3 linked regions of the Homo sapiens genome follow. The protein of the gene in region 1 purifies or fractionates together with the protein of each later gene. This does not show direct contact. Each region holds a gene or a part of one and is shown on either strand. Other genes may lie near its edges. The genes, in order: LEMD2, TRDN and VIPR2.

Evidence for each region.
Region 2: the proteins of LEMD2 (region 1) and TRDN purify together in Homo sapiens (co-immunoprecipitation; one large-scale study listed by IntAct). This does not show direct contact.
Region 3: the proteins of LEMD2 (region 1) and VIPR2 purify together in Homo sapiens (co-immunoprecipitation; one large-scale study listed by IntAct). This does not show direct contact.

Annotation. Positions count from the first base shown.
Region 1 is NC_000006.12:33,772,131-33,775,782, reverse strand, and holds part of LEMD2 (LEM domain-containing protein 2), read left to right. Parts: intron 1-3,004; coding exon 3,005-3,155; 3' UTR 3,156-3,652. UniProt on the Homo sapiens protein: Nuclear lamina-associated inner nuclear membrane protein that is involved in nuclear structure organization, maintenance of nuclear envelope (NE) integrity and NE reformation after mitosis.
Region 2 is NC_000006.12:123,504,419-123,508,070, forward strand, and holds part of TRDN (triadin), read right to left. Parts: intron 1-3,652. UniProt on the Homo sapiens protein: Contributes to the regulation of lumenal Ca2+ release via the sarcoplasmic reticulum calcium release channels RYR1 and RYR2, a key step in triggering skeletal and heart muscle contraction.
Region 3 is NC_000007.14:159,033,262-159,036,913, reverse strand, and holds part of VIPR2 (vasoactive intestinal polypeptide receptor 2 isoform 1 precursor), read left to right. Parts: intron 1-11; coding exon 12-162; intron 163-901; coding exon 902-962; intron 963-2,263; coding exon 2,264-2,333; intron 2,334-2,609; coding exon 2,610-2,701; intron 2,702-3,652. UniProt on the Homo sapiens protein: G protein-coupled receptor activated by the neuropeptides vasoactive intestinal peptide (VIP) and pituitary adenylate cyclase-activating polypeptide (ADCYAP1/PACAP).

The sequences.
Region 1 (3,652 bases):
CATTTTACCTATAAGGGAACTGAGGCACAGGGAAGTAGAGGAATGTGCTCAAGAGTCCCATGGCTAGTGGCATTTCCGTGCTCCCGCCACCAGGCTCTACTGTCAACATCATCCCTATCTGCAACCCAAGAGGAATCAGAAAAATAGAGCCGTTAGCAGTCCACTTTAAGTCAGGCACAGTGGCTCACACCTGTAATCCCAGCATTTTGGGAGGCCAAAGTGGGAGGATTGCTTGAGCCCATGAGTTCAAGACCAGCCTGGACAACATAGCAAAACCCCATCTCTACAAAAAATAGATATTAGTGGGCATGGTGACACATGCCTGTAGTCCCAGCTACTCAGGAGGCTGAGGCAGGAGGATCACTCGAGCCCAGGAGGTCGAGGCAACAGTGAGCTATAACTATGCCACTGCACATCAGCCTGGACAACAGAGCAAGACCCTATCTCTTAAAAAAATAAAAAAAAGGTCCATCTTAAACATGAAGGTGCTTGTTGCCTGTCATGCTCACCTCACCCCTGGAAAGGTGGCAGGCAGGAAGTTTAGAGTGAGCAGACTCACAGCAGCATGGGCTGTGCTTGCTCTGAGGAGCGCTTGCTGTTGGTTTCAGCGTGAGGCCCTCTACCTCCCAGGGAGGGTGACTTGGGGTACTCAAACTCCCACCCAATTCCTGGCCCTGGCAGGAGTATCGTGACAATGAGCATCTCAGTCAACCTGTGCCACAGTTTCCTTATCCTAAAATGCAGGTGATCCCGCTGCCTTGCACAGGGCTGTGACGAAGAGACTATCATTCATTCATTCATTCATTCATTCAGTTCCTCCACAAATGTTTATTGAGCACCTACTACATGCCAGACACCCTACTGGGTCACAGGGAGACAGCAGGAAGTGGAAGAAACAAAAATCCCTGTCCAGCTGGAGCATTTGTTCTCAGGAAGGAGACAGATGACAAGATGCATAAGGAAAAGATGTGATATTAGGTAGTGACAAGCCCTAAGGGAAGGGGGGTTGGTATCAGGGTGGTGGCCTCAAAGTTCATTAAGTCACTGCCTAGTAGCCAGGCACGGTGGCTCATGCCTGTAATCTCAGTACTTTGGGAGGCCAAGGTGGGTGGGCCACCTCAGGTCAGGAGTTCGAGACCAGCCTGGGCAACATAGTGAAACCCCATCTTTACTAAAAATACAAAAATTAGCCGGGCATGGTGGCATGCACCTGTAATCCCAGCTACTCAGGAGGCTGAGGCATGAGAATCACTTGAACCCAAGAGGTGGAGGTTGCAGTAAGCCGAGATCATGCCATTGCACACCAGCCCGGGTGACAGAGCGAGACCCTGTCTCAAAAAAAAAAAAAAAAATGGGAGACCAAGGCGGGCAGATCACAAGGTCAGGAGTTTGAGACCAGCCTGGCCAATGTGGTGAAACCCCGTCTCTACTAAAAATACAAAAATTAGCCGGGCATGGTGGCAGTCACCTGTAGTCCCAGCTACTCGGGAGGCTGAGTCAGGAGAATCACTTGAACCCGGGAGGCGGAAGTTGCAGTGAGCTGAGATCACACCACTGCACTCCAGCCTGGGTGACACAGTGAGACTCCATCTCAAAAAAAAAAAAAAAAAAAAAGTCAGTGCCTAGCACGTGGGCATCATCCAAGGGTAGCCATTATGCCTTGGGCTTAAATGATATTCCACACACATATTTGCTTAAATAAGAGCATGAGACGGCACTGCAGCTTGCCTGCAGCCGGAGCTACCACCCAAGCCTTCGTGCATTAGCATAGATACCCAGAGCTGCTGCCACTCAGGTAGCCGGCCCTCAGGGTCAGAGCCATGTGAACCCCAGACGCCCATGCTCTGTTTGCTCTCTTGACTTACCTCCCAAGCCACCCAGTCAGTCCAGGCCAAGCTCCCCACGTCAGGAGACATTGGCTAGCCAGTCAGGTCTGCCCTGTAGATGAGGGCCTGCTTGGGAAAGACTGAGGGAGATGAGAAGAACTGGCCTGGGAAGGAGGGGCTGGAGTGAGACACTGCCCACTCAACACTGGCCGCTTCCTGCTCAGGGACCCAGCACCTTGGAGCTCAGTCCCCAGGGAATGTGTGGCCTCGGCCAGACCAGCCAAGTTGGGGCTGCTGAATAGGCCCATGGGGTTTGGTTGGTGACAGGTCCTGACCCCTGGGGAAGCCCTAGCCCCCCCCCCGCCTCCTGACTCACTGGCCACCTCCGTTTGTCCTCCCCTTCTGCTCCCATGCGTACACACTCACAGTCACTGTCTTTCCACGTGTGGTGTCATGGGGAGGTGGGCTGCAGTGATGAGAAAAGGCTGGGGGCTGTGCAATACCATGCTTCACAAAGGGAGAAGATCAAAGTGACCCTCCCCCATGGCTTTGGAACCTTCTTGTCCAGTCTGGAAGGGGGGAAGAAGAGATGAGGGGAAGGCTGTCCAGGGGGGTGCAAGGCCCTAGAGACCCAGCAGAGAAGGGACTCTGGCCACTGAAGGGGCCCTCCGTTGTGGCTCTGGTTCCCTAGAGCAGCTCCAGCTTCTTGGCCTCCCCCGTCTGATGCTTAGCTCATCCCATCCCCTGGAGTGCTGTGGAGCTTAGATGAAACAGCCCAGTGCTCACTCTTCAATGAGCCCACCCAGAGCAGCATCAAGATGCAGTTGGCGGGGTACTGGAACTGGCTTGGCAAGGGCTGCGCAGGCAACAGGTCCCAGCAAGAGTCAGCTAGCCTAGCACAGCCCTGCACACCTGGAGACCTGGGGGTGCTCCAGACACCTCGGCCCTTTAGCTCCCTTTAATTGAATGTGTTTGGATCAGTGAAGGTTGAGGAATCATTTCTCTATGGCCCAAGACGTTTTTCTCCTCTGCAGTTGTCATGTTAGTACCTGCCAGCTTTTCCTCTCTTACATAAATTCCATGCCAGAGCCTGGAAATGTGTGCCCTTTGTAGGAGGGGCATCCACAGGCTGGCTCACCTCGGCAGTGCCAGGCAGAGCCCCGTCCCTCTCATTGCAGGAGGCGCATGAAGCGTGTCTGGGACCGAGCTGTGGAGTTCCTGGCCTCCAACGAATCCCGGATCCAGACGGAGTCCCACCGCGTTGCAGGAGAGGACATGCTGGTGTGGAGATGGACTAAGCCCTCTTCCTTCTCTGACTCAGAGCGATAAGCCCCGGGCGGGGACTTGTTCCCGGTCAGCCTGTCCCAGGACAGCCCACTCCAGAGGCACAGGAGGGTCACCAGGCCTGCGGTGCTGAATTCACACTTGCCTTGACTTTCAGTCTCGTCCTGACACGATTCCAAAGGTCTGCCATACTCTTCAGAGGAGTTCGGCTCGCAGGAAAATGTGGGCTTCCTTTAAAGGGAGGGGGAGAAGCCAGGGTGATAGCCCAGACTCTGCCCTGTTGTGCTGGCAGAAACGGGGAGAAGGGTTGAGTTTTCATGAATAGAAAACAAGAGCAGCAGCTGTCAGGCCCAGCTGACAAGCGTGGGGCTGGTGGGCTGGGGCATGGCCACGCCAGGGAGTCTGTCACCTGGGAGGTGGGGCAGGGATGGTGTTTCGGGTGGCGGGATGGGGAGCAGCTTGGTCCATGTGCCTTCAGGGGGTTGTTACTTGAGAGCTCCAGGGTGAAGGGAGAAAGCCTGTGCTCTGGCTGGCTGGGCCTC
Region 2 (3,652 bases), about 90 Mb from region 1:
ATTATCGCATTGGTGTTGACTAACAGAAATAAAACAATGAAATCCATTAGAAGATAACTGAAAGACCTATAGTCTAATGATTTGGCCTTAGAAAAACTGAAAGTGAAGAAATTCAGATATTGGCTCCTGTTTATCTTAAGTCAGCGATAATTCTACTAGTTTTTAAAGCCCTTAAACATATCATGGGAAATTCAAAGGGCTATAAATAAAAATATATATGAATAGATATATAAATTAGAACATATATATATTACACACATATATTCTTAATTTGATATTATCCGTATTTTGGAAGAGGGAACTGTGATGCAAATAACTAGTCTGTGGATCATTCAAGCATCTTTTAAAAAGCAGTAATAATGTAGCACATAATTTGTGGAAAATTGTTCATAATAGATGCTGAATATTGGACATTCCTTTTTGTATGTGACTACACATAACCACTATACACCACAGCAACTCTACTGCAATGTTGGAATCCTCTATGTCATTTGCTAATGCACTGTGTAGCCTTTATTGTCACTCATGTTAAAGAATTTGATGAAGGCCGGGCATGGCGGCTCATGCCTGTAATCCCAGCACTTTGGGAGACCAAGGCGGGCGGGTCATGAGGTCAGCAGATCAAGACCATCCTGGCTAACAGGGTGAAACCCCATCTCTACTAAAAATGCAAAAATTAGCTGGGCGTGGTGGTGCATGCCTGTAATCCCAGCTACTCAGGAGGCTGAGGCAGGAGAATCATTTGAACCAGGGAAGCGGAGGTTGCAGTGAGCCGAGATTGCGCCATTGCACCACAACTTGGGCAACAAGAGCAAAACTCTGTCTCAAAAAAAAAAAAAAAAAAAAAAAAAAGAATTTAATGAAAAAATGTAATCAAGTTTCTTGACTTTGGTACCCTAAATGATGATTTCAGGCTAAGCCAAGATAATATCAGAAGGTCCCATTGAGAGAATGAAAATGATAATGCCAGATGCTGGTTAGCTTGCAAACCAAAAATCATCTGTGGTATCGCACTTAATTGACTACGCCAGCACTTCCCAAAACACTGTTTCTCAGATACTTCAGATATTTACAGGAAGATGTTGATACTGTATTAGGTATTGGAGAATATTCTCATGGCCAAATTCATTTGGCAACAATAAGCTAACCTGGTCATTTAGCTTGGACTTTCTCAAAGCTGAAGTGTATTGAGAATTTTTAAGAAGGGGAATTATGATACACACATTATTCAATATTGTTTAATCATAAAATTCTCATACAAATATTACTCAATTACTCTATAAACTTTTTTTTTTTTTTGAGATGAAGTCTTGCTTTGTCATCCAGGCTGTAGTGCAGTGGCACGATCTCGGCTCACTGCAACCTCTGCCTCTCAGTTTCAAGGAATTCTCCTGCCTCAGCCTCCCAAGTAGCTGGGATTACACGCGCCTATCACCAAGCCCAGTTAATTTTGTATTGTTAGTAGAGATGGGGTTTCACATGTCCATAAACTTTCAACATCTTTGTGGCTTCTGTAACTACACTCAGGGGATTTTCTTCTTCCTATAAATCATTTCTAAACCTCCTTTGCTGGTTTCTGCTCTTTCCTGCAGTAAACTCATATGTTTCTGTGACTGAAACCAGCAGCTTTCTGCGGATGACTTTAAATTGAAATCATTCCAGAATTCCACACTGGAATGTTTATTAGTGTCTGTCTGGAAAGAAAGTTTCACTGGAGTGGTCAACAGCACCTCAATCTCATGCAACTCATTCACCTAAAAAACACTTCTAGAGAGTCTATGTTGACCTGGGCTCACAGCTAGTTGCTGGAGCTCTAAAAATCAGCATAATAATAAAACTACCTGAATAAATTTTAGCACAGCAAAATTAAAACCGTGCAATATCTGGCTTCCTCCTATCTCCCATGTTACAGCACTTTTCCAAAAATTTATTCCTCTACTGGACTGCTTTCTTTCTTTTGAATATTTTATGTATTTTTCCATGTGTCAACTGTTGTCAGACTGCATTCTCTATATTTTCTATATTTTTCCACATATTTAAATTTCTTTATTTCTTTTTTATTTATTTTTGTCTTTTTGTTTTTTTGTTTAGATAGACTCTTGGCTCTGTTGCCAGGCTGGAGTGCAATGGTGCAATCTTGGCTCACTGCAACCTCTGCCTCCCGGGTTCAAGCAATTCTCCTGCATCAGCCTCCCGAGTAGCTGGGATTTCAGGTGTGCACCACCAACATCAGCTAATTTTTGTATTTTTAGTAGAGATGGGGTTTCACCATGTTGGCCAGGCTGGTCTTGAACTCCTGACCTCAGGCGATCCACCCGCCTCGGCCTCCCAAAGTGCTGGGATTAAATTTCTTCATGGTCAATTCACATGCAAAAAAATGGCTCTCCCATTTGAATTAATAATGTCTTCCCATGAGCTTCCATTTTTCTGAATTTTTATTAAATTATACATTTTATTCTTTATTATATATCTTGAAATATAGATAGTTTGATCTATCTGTCTTCCCTACCAGACAGACAGTGCTTAGGGGCAGGAATTCTATTATTATTTTTGTATCACCATAGTGTCTAGCACAATGCTTCTTTCAGAGAAAACAGAGGATAAATGTATACTGGATTAGCAATTTTGATGGAGAGAGTAAATATTCCACTATACTCAGATCATATGTATAATATAGTGATATAGAGACTGCATTATGTAAATATGTGTTTAGAAATAAACTTGTCTAAACCTGTTAAACTTGCCAACTTTTTTTTTTGTTTATACTAATTTGTATGAAATTGTTATATTTGCTTACTCTAAATGACAGCTATCTACTCCTTGTAAGTTACAGTTGATTTAACCTTAACTTTATAGTATGGAACTATAGATGTGTGAAATTCAGATTTCTTTTTAATGCCATTATAATTTATAAGTGGGCAATGATTATTTTCTAAGAGGTAGAACCACATATATAGCCAACTCATTATAATCATTGACTTTAAGTATAAAAATAATAAAATATTTTCTACTATTTTAGACACTCTTCAATCACATTCACTCTGGAAATAGATAACTTTGCCTCATAGTAGAAAAAAATGAGTGACAACTAAACAATGATGTGGCTATAATAAAGAAAATATCATGAAACTAAAGCAACACCCAACTTCTATTTACTTTTGAGTACACATTCTTCAATTTTGTGCCAAAATATTTTTCCTGATTTTTCCCTAAAATAATTTAAGTGACGAAATTTATTAAGGAATGAAAAAAACAAAAAGTATTGCCATGGGTATTCAAATCACCCAGTTTTATTTAGGAAGGCATTTTATTCATGACTTTTGTCAAATGGAAAACAAAATGGCCTAATCAAAAAAAATGACATCAGCATATTTGATTCAATCTTGGAATTAGCGTGATCCATTAGCTACTGCATCAGATTCAGAATGTCTGATGCCAAAGTATTAAATAGAATAGTATCCCTCAAGAAACATACTACACATGTTGGGAGTTAGAAAATAACAAATTTTCTCTCTCATTCCATAAAGAACTGCAAACTGCTTAACTTTTTTCTCTGCTTCAGTTTCTTTGCGTTAAAAAAAAAGAATCGCCACTGTAACTGCCTCTTCCTCTATGGAAGCTGTGGAGATGAGTAACACTGAGCAAAATAACT
Region 3 (3,652 bases), on another chromosome or scaffold:
GCGGTTTCCAGGTGGGCTGCAAGCTGAGCCTGGTCTTCCTGCAGTACTGCATCATGGCCAACTTCTTCTGGCTGCTGGTGGAGGGGCTCTACCTCCACACCCTCCTGGTGGCCATGCTCCCCCCTAGAAGGTGCTTCCTGGCCTACCTCCTGATCGGATGGGGTAAGTGTGCCCCTTCCCACCCACAAACCCTCCATCCCATCCCATCGGACCAAACAACGCAAACATTTTCAGCTCAGAAAACACTTTGCCGCCCCCGTAGAATGCATGTCAGGGTCATATCATGAAGAGCTCTTCCAGGATGACTGGAGGCTCCTACAAACAACACATTAATATTTCTGGTAACCAGGAACCTAGTTTAAAATACTCCCATTCCTGGCCCCTTGTACCCCCATTCAAACTGGGCTGTTAACAAGTAACAAAACGGTTTCCTCCTCCGCCTCTACCCACTTCACCTTTCACTGAGGGTGGGGATCAGAGAGGAGAGGCACACCAGGTAGCGGAAGCCTTGCCTTGCCCAGGGTTGGAAAGGGGTGCAAATTTGGGACATCCTCATGGACAGGATGAGGCAAACGTAGCCGATAGCTCCGTGGGTGGTCGCAAAAATCAGTGAACACATCTCCTTCTCCGCACGTTCAACTCCATGGCCTCCAGTAATAACCCTTCTCATGAGGAATGGCAAGTCTCAGATTCTCAGCTCTCAAGCGTGTGTTTAATTATCTTCACTGCTTACTAAGGCATGAGCATAAACTTGTAAATATTTACAAAGACTTTAAACAAGAGATTGCACTTAATATTCCCGTGAGAAAGCGTGTCCTTGAGGGTTTTGCTGGTGAAGGCACCCACCTGTGTGCGTGCACACCGCTCCGCTCCACCTGTGTAACCAGGCGTCTCTCTGCAGGCCTCCCCACCGTCTGCATCGGTGCATGGACTGCGGCCAGGCTCTACTTAGAAGACACCGGGTGAGTCCATGACCAGACTGCAACCTCGAAAACGGGCCCGGCAACATCTGGCAACATGAAGTCCTTTGGAAGCCAGAAGGTTACCTGGTTGGAAGGACAGGGAGCGTTTGCGGCCAACCGACAGCCACGCAGGAAGCATCTGGGCGATTCATGGGGAGAAATCCTGTGAGGTTGGAGTGTTGGAGGAAGCCCCGTGCAGGAGACAGGAAGTGAGCCAGGTTTTGCAGCATAGTTGAGATTGGGATAAGCCAGGCAGAGACTGGGGCAGCCCCTGCGGTGGGCACAGCGATGTCCACAGAAGAAAGCCAAGTGCCCTGCATGTTGTTTACCCGGAGCAAAGTGGAAGGTCAGGTGATGGTGGCTGCAGGGCCCCCCGGCACTTCCTAAGCACTGGTCTTGGCTCATGCGGCCCAGAGCGCTTTTCCACTATGCTCTCCCTGAGCGAGACCACGGCCCAGACATGAGCACGCGTGGTTCCAGCACAAATATCTTGCCTTTTAAAGGGCCTCAGTGTGCATCAGTTACCCACTGCTAAGTAACAAATCACTCCAAAATTTGGTGGTTTAAAACACCCACCGTCTAGTTACGGTGTGATTCTGCACCTGATGACCTGGGAGGACTCAGCAGCTTTGAGGACTGGTTCCCCTTGGTCCCCTTCAGCCAGTCTGAGACTGCACCAGCCTGAAGGCTCCTGCCCTCGGCCCCCGAGGGAAAGCATGGACCCAAGCCTGCAATGGAGATTCTGCTTTATGGGAGGGCTGCAGACTTCCAGCGCAGGGTGTGGACCCTGGGGAGAATCACTGAGGCGTTTTACAAGCCAGGGGTCACAGCTTCCTGCTGGAGACACCCCATGCGCTGAAAATCAAAACAAAATGCTATGAGCTGGAGAGCTGGTGGCTCTAAGGACGTTTTAAACCCTTTGCCATATACATGCAAACCATTCGGGAGGTGAGGGGAAGCTAATTTTCAGGAGGAAGGTTCTTTTCTCCTGATTTCAGCTGAATGGGGCTGACACACGTTCATGCTCAGAGTGGAGGGCGTCAGCAGCCCTCCTGCCCTTGTCCTGGCTTCTGGGGCCGCACCTCCATTCCTCCTCCCCACAAGCCGACTATTGTTTTGAAAGCATGAAACAAAACACAATCACTCCCTGGGACAGATTCCTTTACGATCTGTCAGTGCAGAGAAATTGTGCTTCCACGGTGAGGGGAGTGGGCAAGTTGGGAGGGGCAGGCGCTCATTCTTCTGTACCTGTCTTGCGAAAGTGGTTGGTGGTAACCTGATTTCCCATCTCTCTCTGACAGTTGCTGGGATACAAACGACCACAGTGTGCCCTGGTGGGTCATACGAATACCGATTTTAATTTCCATCATCGTAAGTAGTCCCTGTTGACATGTGGATTATCTGTGGAATCACACACTTGGGCAGACAGCAAGCCTGCCATCCTTTATTAAATAGAACTGACCCCATTCCACGCATCACTCAGCCTTCCCGGAAAAGGACCTCTTCAGGCATGTGGACCCCCAGAGGCAGTTCCCAGGGAAGGAGGGAGGGACTGAGGGAGCGGAGGGGAGGGTCGAAATCAGGTGGACTTCAGGGCAAATTAGGGATCCACGTGTCTGTTTCACAAACTTATTATCTCTTGTGCAGGTCAATTTTGTCCTTTTCATTAGTATTATACGAATTTTGCTGCAGAAGTTAACATCCCCAGATGTCGGCGGCAACGACCAGTCTCAGTACAAGTGAGTGTGTGTCCCGGCCTGGCCGTCCCTGATGGGGATGCCGTGTGGAGACAGGAGACCCCCACGCTGCCAGGAAGGCCCTGGAGGTGCGGCGACTCCGCCTCCGCCACTGTCACACCTCGAGGCTGGGCCCCAGGGCTCTGCTCCTGCCCAAGGCTCAGAGAGGCCCTGGACAGCATTTCCCTGGCGAAGTAACAAATCACTCCAAAATTTGGTGGTTTAAAACACCCGCCATCTAGATAGGGTGTGATTCTGCACCTGATGACCTGGGAGGACTCAGCAGGGGCACTTCTGGCCTTGGCAACTGTGGAAGTCAGGCACCATTTCTTTTATTTCAAGGCCAGAAGAAAGTCCTCTCCAGTGAACTTGCTTGTTTAAGCATCCGCCCACTTACATGTTATACAGCCTGTCTTTTTCTCCTTGACCACACAGTATTTTTTATTTTACATTTAATTCTGTCTCCCCCTCAGACATGGCCATGTGTCCATGGCCGTGTGTCTACTGCCAGCCCTAATACCAGGCCTTGTACTTAATAAAAATTCAGAAAGCGTTTCCTGCCCACGTGATTACATGAAGATGGCATTGTGATCTCCCTTCAGTAGATGAAGACAGGGCAGACGTTCAGCCAGTCACCCCCAGTCATCCAGCTAATTCATGATGATCCGGGGAATCTATAAAGTAATGCAAAGACTCCATAAATTTATATCAAGAATTTATTTTTTTTTAAAAAGGTAAAAACCAAAATTCAAGTATAAACTAAACACTGGCTTGGTGTGGAAGTGGTTGGCCCAGCCCAGAAGGTGCCTCGGGCTCAGACTGACCGGGGGTGGAAGGGCGGCTGTGCACAGAGCTGTACCATGGCAGGAACCCTGCCGCCCAGCCTAGGAGGGTGCCTGGCCTGCATTTCCCTTTTCTCCCACCTTAGAAAACAGGGATGGATTTGGGGAGGGG